2 separate regions of the Homo sapiens genome follow, and region 2 is linked to region 1. Evidence: fine-mapped expression QTL. A gene starts in region 1. The other region holds a variant in brackets. All regions are shown on one strand. Distances are between the middles of the regions.

Region 1 (5,305 bases):
CTCCCAAAGTGCTGGGATTACAGGAGTGAACCACTAAGCATGGCCAAAAAAAATAATTTAAACAAACAAACAAAAAACACTCCAGAAATCTAATTAAATGAGAATTCCGAACAGCAAAATCATCTTCAGAGACTCTCAGGGGAGACTCTTTTTTTTTTGAGACGGAGTCTTGCTCTGTCACCCAGGCTGGAGTGCAATGGCACCATCTCAGCTCACTGCAACCTCTGCCTCCCGGGTTCATGTGATTCTCCTGCCTCAGCCTCCTGAGTAGCTGGGGTTACAGGTATGCAACACCATGCCCGGCTAATTTTGTATTTTTAGTAGAGACATGATTTCGCCATGTTGGTCAGGCTGGTCTTGAACCCCTGACCTCAAGTGATCCGCCCACCTCAGCTTCCCAAAGTGCTGGGATTACAGGCATGAGCCACCGCACCCGGCCGAGGGTCTCTCTTGAGCAGTACCTGAAGCCAGGAGGCAGCACACTCCAACACCGGGATTCGACACACAGCCACCGCCATGGAGACCAGTTTTCCCAACAAGCTCATCCGGCTGTCATCGGCTTTGTTCCCTTGAGGGCTGAAAAGGGATGAAAAAATAATCTGCCGAACAGAGTCCTTGGTTTGCTCCTGGAAATAATTGCACATGATTTCAAGAAGTTGAAGCTCCTGAAGGGAATTCAGTCTCTGCAAAAGAAATCCCGGAAAAGCGTTAAGAAATGTGGCTGTAACGTACTTATTAACTCATACATTAAGAAAACAGGAAATAGACTGGGCGCGGTGGCTCATGCCTGTAATCCCAGCACTTTGGGAGGCCAAGGTGGGCGAATCACGAGGTCAAGAGTTCGAGACCAGCCTGGCCAACATGGTGAAACCCCATCTCTACTAAAAATACAACAATTAGCCGGCATGGTGGCGCGCACCTGTAATCCCAGCTACTCGGGAGGCTTAGGCAGGAATCTCGCTTGAACCTGGGAGGCGGAGGTTGCAGTGAGCCGAGATCGCACCACTGCACTCCAGCCTGGTGACAGAGTGAGACTCCGTCTCAAAAAAAAAAAAAAAAAGAAAAACAGGAAATAACAGTATTTTCCCGTAGAACTTTTCGCCCTTCGTAAAGTTCCCGTAGAACTTTTCGCCCTTCGTAAAGCTCAGGTCTCAGGGAGATCTTTGCTGTTGATCTTAGAAAAAAGTCATATAGGCCAGGCGTTGTGGCTCACGCCTGTAATTCCAACACTTTGGAGGCCAAGGAGAGAGAATCTTGAGCCCAGGAGTTTGAGACCAGCCTGGGTAACACAGGGAGGCCCCATCTCTACAAAACATTCAAAAATTAGCTGGGCATGGTGGTGCACGCCTGGAGTCCCAGCTACTCAGAAGGATGAGGCGGGAGGATTACTTGAGCCCAGGAGTTCAAGGTTGTAGTGAGCTGTGATTGCACCACTGCACTCCTGCCTGGGCAACGTAGTGAAACCTTGTCTCGAAAAAAAAAAAGGCAGAGAAAGAAAAAAAAAAGAAAAAGATGTAAGAAGAAAGCCATACAGATCATTATACATCCTCCTGGAGGGTTCAGGATGAGCCTTTCGGTAACAGCCCAACAGACCTCTAGGGAGCGGGCAGTCGCCAGTTTGTCCCTTTAACACCAAGACTCGGCTGTCACACGCCCCGCAGACTGGACAGGCAGCTGAGCAACACTGCAGGACCCGGAGAAGGGTTTGGGGGCTGCTGCAGGAGCGAGGCCGAGCGCGAGCGCGGGGATCCTGGACATGGGGCGCCCGCGGCTTGACACAGCCCTGCATCGCTGGGGAAAAGGCCCGCCCGCCCGCCTGCGGGGCCCGGGAACCCGACCGTCTCAGGCCGCACCTTGGGCTGCGCGCTGCGCTCCTTGGGCACCTGGAACACGAACTCCTCCAGCAGCTCCACGGGGCCCTTGTCCACGATGGGCAGCGGCGCGCTCTGCAGCTGGCTGCTGAAGTAGATGTCCAGGTGGTACAACACCTCCTTGGCGGCGCTCAGCGCATCGCGGCGCAGCAGCGAGTGGCGGATGTCGCTCATGGTGCGGCCGCCGCGGCCCCCGCGCCGAGCGCGTCTCACTTCCGCCCGGGGCCCGGGACTGCGCCGCTACCCGTGGAAACAAAGAGGCGCGACCCGGGCCTGGGCTGCGGCACCCGCCCGCTTGCCCGCCTGCCGCCGCCTGCTCCCTGCCTGCTCAGGGGGCCATCGCTGCTGCCGCCGGCCAGCAGGCGCCCGAAGGTCCGACTGCGGCGCCGCCAGGAGCCGCCGGGAGCTGCCGCCGCGCAGCCGAACAGCGGCCGAATGCCGGGCACGGAGACGGCGGCCCGCAGGGGCCAAGCGCAGGCCGCGGCCTAGGCGCGCTCTCCGGAGGGCGCCCCCTGGCGGCGCGAGCGGTGAGGGGCGCGCCGCGGTCCCAGGTGGACCCCGCCCCCGGAGCCCGCCCAACCGCCGGTGCAGGCCCGCTCCGTCCTTGCCCAGGCTCCCTCGCGGGCTGTGCGTCGCGTTCAGAGCTGCCGCTGGTTGATTTCACGGTGCTTTCCACCAGCAAGAATTGGGGGTGGTGCCGGGCTTTGGCTTCGGCCAGCGGACTTGGGTTCCCTGGCCGCCCCAGCTACCCGTCTTCACGTTTCCATCTGTTCTCAGCTGGGGGGTACGGGGGAAGATGGCTGGAAGGCCCCCTGCCCCTGACTCCCACTTCCCAGCCTCTCTGACTGCGGGCTCCTTGGCCTAGCAAGGTGCAGAACACCTGCCACCTGCACCTGAGAGCCCTCCCACTCCAAAGACCTTCCGCACCAAGACCTCGTTTCTGGCAGTCATGTCTCCTCTGAAATAGGTGGCAGTTCACTTTCACAATTTTTAAACTGGTGAGAAAGGACTTGAATGTGGCTAGAGGAGGGCAGGCCGGAGGCCACACATGCAGGAAGGTGCCTGATGTACAAGCCCATACTGGCCGGAAGGCAGGCCTGGGTGAGGACACTCTGTTGTTGAGATGAAAATCCCCTGGGGGAGAGAGGAGAATAGAGGGGGCATAAAAGAGAGCACAGCCAGGCACAACGCGCAGGCGCTGAGTCAATGAGACCCTCCTGCACATCACACAGGTCAGAGACACGGCCGCAAGCCCCTCCTGTCCACATGCCCAGAGTTTAGAGACACCAAGGTCTCAGCATCACCTAGAACCTCTGAGAAGTCATCTCTTGATCCCCTTGACACCAGGACTTCAGAGATGCCCGGTTTCAAAAGAAGACAAGCAAGGGGGATTCCTCAGTCAACACCCATTTTCCCCTCTCTCCCTTGCCCACCGAAAGTGATTTATAAGCACAGCAGAAATCAAAACAAACAAGCCATGCTTGGAAAACGAGGATCCACATGTGTAAATAAACGGGAACTACAGCTCAAAGGCAGTCATACACTTGTCATTCTTGTTTCTTCCTCTCATGACATGGAAAGGCAGGTAGAAAGATCTCTTGAAGGTTGCTCCGAAGCCCATGGGAGTGAATGTTCCGGTGGACTTGGGGCTCTGCTGACGGAGGCCAGGCCACAAGGGGACAACGCTGGCACCAGGCCCAGTCACCTCTGTACCACTCGTTAGTAGTCTGGTTGGTGGCCGCCAGATACAGGACAAACAACAGGTAGCCACCCAGGAGGAAGCTCAGAACCACGACAAAGCCCAGCATGAAGACAATCCGTGGAAAAGTCAGGAACAGGTACTAGGAGCAGAGAAAAGGTAGTGCTTTAGGCAGCTGGACTGTGACATCCATGAGAGTGAACACTGGCCAACCCTGGGCCTGCCACAGCCACCAGCGCTGCTTCCTCAGCCCACCTACTTGTGTCCAGATGTGACAAACTGAACATAAACAGCACTGAGAAGCAGCCCAGAATAATCCCAGTACATACAAGAGTTTCCTGTGGGATGAATGAAGTGTTCACACTGAAGGAAAAGGGAAAGTTTACTTAGGAAATGTGCTATTCCAGTTAGCTATTTATAAAATAAATGCAGACTTCATTCATCAATATAAAATCCAGATGGACAAAAGAGATCAATGTCTTTCTTAAAACAATACAACCCCAAAAATAGATGTACAAGGATATTCGTTGTATCATTGATTTTATCAGCCCCTCTTCCGAAGTTTTTTTCCTTTTCTTAATAAATAGAAACAGGGGCCGGGCGCAATGGCTCACGCCTATAATCCCAGCATTTTGGGAGGCCGAGGCGGGCAGATCACTTGAGGTCAGGAGTTTGACACCAGCCTGGCCAACATGGTGAAACCCTTCTCTACTAAAAATACAAAAGTTAGCCGGGTGTGGTGGCACAAGCCTGTAATCCCAGCTACTCAAGAGGCTGAGGCAGAAGAATTGCTTCAACCCGGGCGGTGAAGGTTACAGTGAGCTGAGATTGTGCAACTGCACTCCAGCCTAGGCGACAGAGCAAGACTCCATCTAAAAATAAATAAATAAATAAATAAATCAATAGAAACAGGGTCTTGCTATGTTGCCCAGGCTGCTTTCAAACTCCTGGCCTTGAGTGATCCTCCTGCCTTGACCTCCCAAATTGTTGGGATTACAGGCGTGAGCCACTGTGCCTGGCCAAGAAACAAGTTAAATGTCCATCCGTCAGGAAGGGTAAACTCTGGGATGGTCACACAATGGGAAAACGAGGAGCCATGAAAAATGATGTCAATTTCTATGTACTGATTGTGAAAAGACTTAATATATTGACTAATGAGAAAGGCAAGATGTAAGGATTACACTGTCATCTTGTTTGGGTAAAAACAAAACTGACTCCGTAAATGGTATATGACCATAGGAACTGCGCTGCTTAAAGTTTTGTAAGTTATTTTTGTAATAAGCAAAATGAAGAATTTAGAAAGTTTAATATTTTTGAAAGTCACAAGAAAAGAGAACATTTAACAAAACTCCTGATGGAGGAGACTTTCTTGTTGAAGTTACAAAGAAAAGAAATTTGATGAGAAAGAATGTCTGAACTTTTCTATACCAAAAAACCCCAAAAAACCCAAAACCCCATTCCCAAGATCCAAAAGATCCACAAACAAAAAAACAGTATAACAAAAGATTAACCGTCATTATTATATAAAGACCTCAAATCAAAAGTGATTCTGGGCCAGTCATGGTGGCTCACACCTGTAATCCCAGCACTTTGGGAGGCCAAGGTGGGAGCATTTGAGCCCAGGAGGTCCAGGTCATAGTGAGCTGTGATGGTACCACTGCACTCCAGCCTAGGTGACAGAGTGAGACTCTGTCTCAAAAAAAAAAAAAAGTTACCATATGACCCAGCAGTGCCA
Region 2 (5,366 bases), 41 kb before region 1:
GCCAACATGGAGAAACCCTGTCTCTACTAAAAATATAAAATTAGCCAGGTGTGGTGGCACACACCTGTAATCCCAGCTACTCGGGAGGCTGAGGCAGGAGAATCGCTTGAACCCGGGAGGCAGAGGTTGCAGTGAGCCGAGATTGTGTCATTACACTCCAGCCTGAGTGACAGAGTGAGACTCCATCTCAAAAATTAAATAATGTGGGGCGCAGTAGCTCATGCCTGTAATCCCAGCACTTTGGGAGGCCAAGGCCGGTGGATCACCTGAGGTCAGGAGTTGAAAACCAGCCTGACCAACATGGTGAAACCCCGTCTCTACTAAAAAAAAAATACAAAAATTTAGCTGGGCGTGGTGGTGGGTGCCTGTAATCCCAGCTACTCAGGAGACTGAGGCAGGAGAATCGCTTGAACCCGGGAGGCGGAGGTTGCAGTGAGCCGAGATCGCGCCCCTGCACTCCAGTATGGGCGACAGAGTGAGACTCCGTCTCAAAAAAAAAAAAAAGTAAATCATACCCTTTTTGCACTAGTACAATTCCATGTCAGTCATCTATCTATGAGCAGTTGGTGGGGTTGGGGCTGGGGGAATATCCAAGCATACTCATGAAACAGTTCCTGGGGTGTCATCTGCCTGGCTCCTGCCCATCCTCCACGGTGGGTGCTGGCAGTGAGGAGGGTGCCAGCCCACCCAGTGATTGGCATGAAGCTTGTTCTATGCTTCAGCCTTCGTGTGTCTCACTGGCAGGGACACAGGGTATGTGAAAAGTTAACAGGCATCTGGGGCATTTGGAATTCTGTGAGGCCGAGAGCATCTCCGTTCAAGTACATGGGCCTGCCCCGTATCTGCACAGACCCACCTGCAGGGACTGAACATTGACTGGGCAGAGCTCCCCTTCACTCGGCTCTCGGGACTTCCTCAGCTGTCTCTTCCTGCAGGAAGCCCTCCTGGGCTCCTCCTGAGCTCTCACACCAGGGGCTGGCAGGGAGCCTGGCACAGAAGGATGCTGATGGATGCCCCCACGGAGCCTCTGTGTGCCTGGAGTGGGCTGAAGGCAGTAGTGCTGCTATTAAAACCATAGGTGAGGCTGGGAGCGGTGACTCATGTTTCGTGTTAGTCGGTTCTCCTATTGCTATAAAGAACTGCCAGAGACTAGGTAATTTAAGAAAAGAGGTTTCACTGGCTCATGTCTCTGCAGCCTATACAGAAAGCATGGCTGGGGAGGCCTCAGGAAACGTACAGTCATGGCAAAAGGTGAAGGGGGAGCCAGCACTTCAAATGGTGGCAGCAGGAGGAATGAGAGAGAAGGGAGGGGTGCCACACACTTGTAAACAACTAGATCTCACAAGAACTCACTGTCGTGGTGACAGCTCCAGGGGGAATGGTATCAAACCATGAGAAATTGCCCCCATAATCCAATCATCTCCCACCAGGCCCCACCTCTAACACTGGGGATTACAGTTGAACTTGAGAGGCCAGGAATGGTGGCTCAGGCCTGTAATCTCGGTACTTTGGGAGGCCAAAGTGGGTGGATCACCTGAGGTCAGGAGTTTGAGTCCAGCCTGGCGAACCTGGTGAAACCCCGTCTCTACTAAAAATACAAAAATTAGCTAGGAGTGGTGGCGAGTGCCTATAATCCCCGCTACTCAGGAGGCTGAGGCAGGAGAATCTCTTGAACCCAGGAGGTGGAGGTTGCAGTGAGCTGAGATCACACCATTGCACTCCAGCCTGGGTGACAGAGGGAGACTCAGTCTCCAAAAATAAATAAATAACAATTGAACATGAGATTTGGGTGGGGACACAGATCCAAACCATATTATTCCTGTAATCCCAGCACTTTGGGAAGCCAAGGTGGGAGGATCGATCACTTGAGCCCAGGAGTTCGAGAACAGCCTGAGCAACATAGTGAGACTTCGTCTCTACAAAAAGTAGAAAAAATTAGCCAGGTATGGTGGTGCGAGCCTGTAGTTCCAGCTACTCGGGAGGGTGAGCCTGCAGTGAGCTATGATGGTGCCACTGCACTCTAGCCTGAGCGACAGACTGAGACCCTGTCTCAAGAAAAAAAAGAAAAAGAAAACAAAGCTGGACAGTAGTTAAAACGGTAAAAAACAGATTTTATTCAGGAACTATTGCAATAGGGAAAAGAGACCTCAGTATAGAACTGGGCT[C/T]AATTCTGAATACAGCAGGGACAAGTGGAGACTTCCAGCCTAGGAGCAGGTTGGAGGGGAGTGGGTGGGTGGAAAAATACGAAGGAGTGGGAGGTTGTGGTTGAACTGACTCCCAGGATCCTGGCTGAAGGCAGGCAAGAGTGATCAGAGGGCACCTGGCAGGTGGTGGGAGAGGAGGGATTTGATCAGATACCAAGGGTGGAGATTCTGGCTAAACTGACTTGACAGGATTTTTGCTACAGCTGGGCAATGCAGAGACGGGCACAGACACTCAAAGGTCAAGGCTGAGTGGAGAAGAGGCTCCGGGGAGGCTGAAGGCCGCTCAAGGAAATAGAAAGACTGTGTTTCCAGCCCTGCATGCCTCCTCATCGGCAGTTGAGACCCCACTGCTGCCTGCTCCTTCCCATTCCATTGCGGGGACCTGGACTTGATCTAGCCCTGTCTGGTGGACACACTTTTGTAGGTGCCAGGAGGGAGGAATCTGCTCCTCCTTTCTGCCCCCGACAGCCCCCAGCCCCAGTGGCCACTCACTCCCAGCATGCCTTGCAGCTGCCTGAGTGGGAGACTGTGGTGGACTCGGAGCTGGGGCAGGGAGGACAAGCTTCTTCTGGAAGGGCAATGGGCAGAGGGTGACCTGGTCTTTCACGGTGGTGTCAAGGACCATAGAGCCAGGCCACATTCTCCCCACGTTAACTTTCCCAAAGGGATCAGTTTTCTGCTGAACAATCATTCCCATTTACTGGGAATTATTGGGCAGTGCCTCATGCCTGTAATCCCAGCACTTTGTGGGGGGCTGAGGCGAGAGGATTGATTGAGCCCAGGAGTTTGAGACCAGTCTGGGCAACATAGCAAGACCTCGCCTCTACAAAAAATTTAAAAATTAGAGGTCGGGGCCGGGCGTGGTGGCTCACGCCTGTAATCCCAGCACTTTGGGAGGCCAAGGTGGGCAGATCACGAGGTCAGGAGATCGAGACCATCCTGGCTAACACGGTGAAACCCCGTCTCTACTAAAAATACAAAAAATTAGCTGGGCATGGTGGCGGGCGCCTGTAGTCCCAGCTACTCGGGAGGCTGAGGCAGGAGAATGGCGTGAACCTGGGAGGCGGAGCTTGCAGTGAGCCGAGATTGCGCCACTGTACTCCAGCCTGGGTGACAGAGTGAGACTCCGTCTCAAAAAAAAAAAAAAAAAAAAAAAAATTAGAGGTCGGGCTCAGTGGCTCACGCCTGTAATCTCAGTACTTTGGGAGGCTGAAGCAGGCGGATCACCTGAGGTCGGGAGTTCAAGACCAGCCTGACCAACATGGAGAAACCCCGTCTCTACTAAAAATGCAAAATGAGCCGGGATGAGGTGGCAGGAGCCTTTAATCCCAGCTACTCGGGAGGCTGAGGCAGGAGAGTCACTTGAACCCAGGAGAGGGAGGTTGCGGTGAGCTGAGATCGCACCATTGCACTCCAGCCTGGGCAACAAGAGCAAAACTGTGTCTCAAAAAAAGCAAATGAATAAAATAAAAATAAAAATAAAAATAAAAATAAATTAGCTGGGCATGGTGGTGCACACCTGTAGTCCCAGCTACTCAGGAGGCAGAGACAGGAAGATCACTTGAGCTTGAGCCCAAGTTCAAGGCTGCAGTGAGCTATGACTGCACCACTGCATTCCAGCCTGGGCGACAGAGTCAGACCCTGTCTCAAAAAAAAAAAAAGAAAAAATTCCAGTTACCAGAGCTTAACTCTGTCACCTTGAAGTCTTGTCATCTCTCACCTGGTTCCCTTAAACAGCCTTCGGATGGCTTCCTGCTGTCCATCGGGACCACATGCCACACCCCATCCACCTTGGCAAGTCATAACCTTCCCCAGCACCTGACGCCTTTCATAGCCACCATGGACCCCCCACCAGGGCAAGAAATTCCAGCCACAGGACCACTCAGACCCCTGGATTTGCCCCCAGCTCCCACCTCAGGCTCTTGCTCAAGACAAATGTCCCCTACCACCACTGCATCCCCCTCTCTGGTCACCTTTCAGGCTGGGCTGAAATACCACCTGTCCCCATGCAGGCCGGGGAACTCCTCTTTCTGTCATCCCTTGATTATTGGTGTGTGACTCTCAGGCTGCACCTCATGGTTGGGACTTGTGGGGGGGCCTTGCCCTACTCCAGGCCTGATGCCATGAGCTGAAGGCCCTGGATGCCATGATAGCCAGCGGCACGGTGCAGGAGCTCAAGCTGAGGCTAAAGTGAGGGGCTGCCTTTCTGGTGCTCCAGCCCACCTCTGTTAGCCACCTCCAGTGCCCTCCAGGGAGGGAAAGCTGCCCACTAACAGGCCAGTGGCTGGCTGGGCTGAGCAGCAATGTCCATGTGGGTATCTGTTTTTCTTGTTCTTGCTGTTTCCTGCTGTCTCGGGGTGCACAGGCCCAGGCAGGCCATGTCCCTGGGGCAGGCTGCCAATCACCTCTCCTCTTTCCTCCTGCTCACATAAGCAGCAGGATGGCAGGTGGACCAGCCGCTGACATAGGCCCGCTTGTCCTCCCTCTTTCCCTAGGCTGCCTCCTGTTGGCAGAAGGCCAGGAGCCCTTCATGGGGGAGGTGTGGGGGGCATCCTCTGTTTTCAGGGTTTTGTTTCATTTGTTTGTTTGTTTTGAGACAGAGTCTTGCTCAGTCGCCAGGCAGGAGTGCAGTGGTGCGATCTCGGCTCACTACAACCTCCGCCTCTGGGGTTCAAGTGATTCCCCTGCCTCAGCCTCCCAAGCAGCTGGGACTACACGCACGCACCACCACCCCTGGCTAATTATTTTTGTATTTTAGTAGAGACGGAGTTTCACCATGTTGGCCAGGATGGTCTCGATCTCCTGACCTCGTGATCTGCCTGCCTCGGCCTCACAGAGTGCTGGGATTACAGGCGTGAGCCACCGCGCCTGGCCAGAATTGAACCCAGTTCTATCAGTTCTATACTAAGGTCTCTTTTCCCTATTGTCTCTGTTTGTTTTTGAGATGGAGTCTTGCTCTGTCGTCCAGGCTGGAGTGCAGTGGCACGATCTCAGCTCACTGCAACCTCTGCCTCCCGGGTTCAAGCAATTCTCCTGCCTCAGCCTCCCGAGTAGCTGGGATTACAGGTGCCCGCCACCACACCCAGCTAATTTTTGTATTTTTAGTAGAGATGGGGTTTTGCCATGTTGGCCAGGCTGGTCTCGAACTCCTGAACTCAAGTG

Evidence for each region.
Region 2: its variant is fine-mapped to the expression of INTS15 in whole blood (INTERVAL, PIP above 0.99).

What each region holds. Positions count from the first base shown.
Region 1 is chr7:6,587,024-6,592,328 of GRCh38, reverse strand. It overlaps INTS15 (integrator complex subunit 15), which reads right to left and starts at 2,308. Exons shown (of 6, transcript NM_024067.4): 1 at 1,854-2,308; 2 at 462-683. The coding sequence starts at 2,045. ZDHHC4 (zDHHC palmitoyltransferase 4) reads right to left here. Exons shown (of 8, transcript NM_001134389.2): 8 at 2,955-3,712. The coding sequence ends at 3,419. It overlaps LOC124901582 (a long non-coding RNA gene), which reads left to right and starts at 2,425. Exons shown (of 2, transcript XR_007060201.1): 1 at 2,425-2,869; 2 at 3,104-3,406. RefSeq lists a silencer at 1,984-2,483 and enhancers at 2,554-2,703, 2,328-3,166.
Region 2 is chr7:6,627,529-6,632,894 of GRCh38, reverse strand. No RefSeq gene overlaps it. Among named protein-coding and RNA genes, the nearest start is that of ZNF316, 7.1 kb to the left of the region's middle. The variant C/T (reference allele first, on the strand shown) is at 2,166.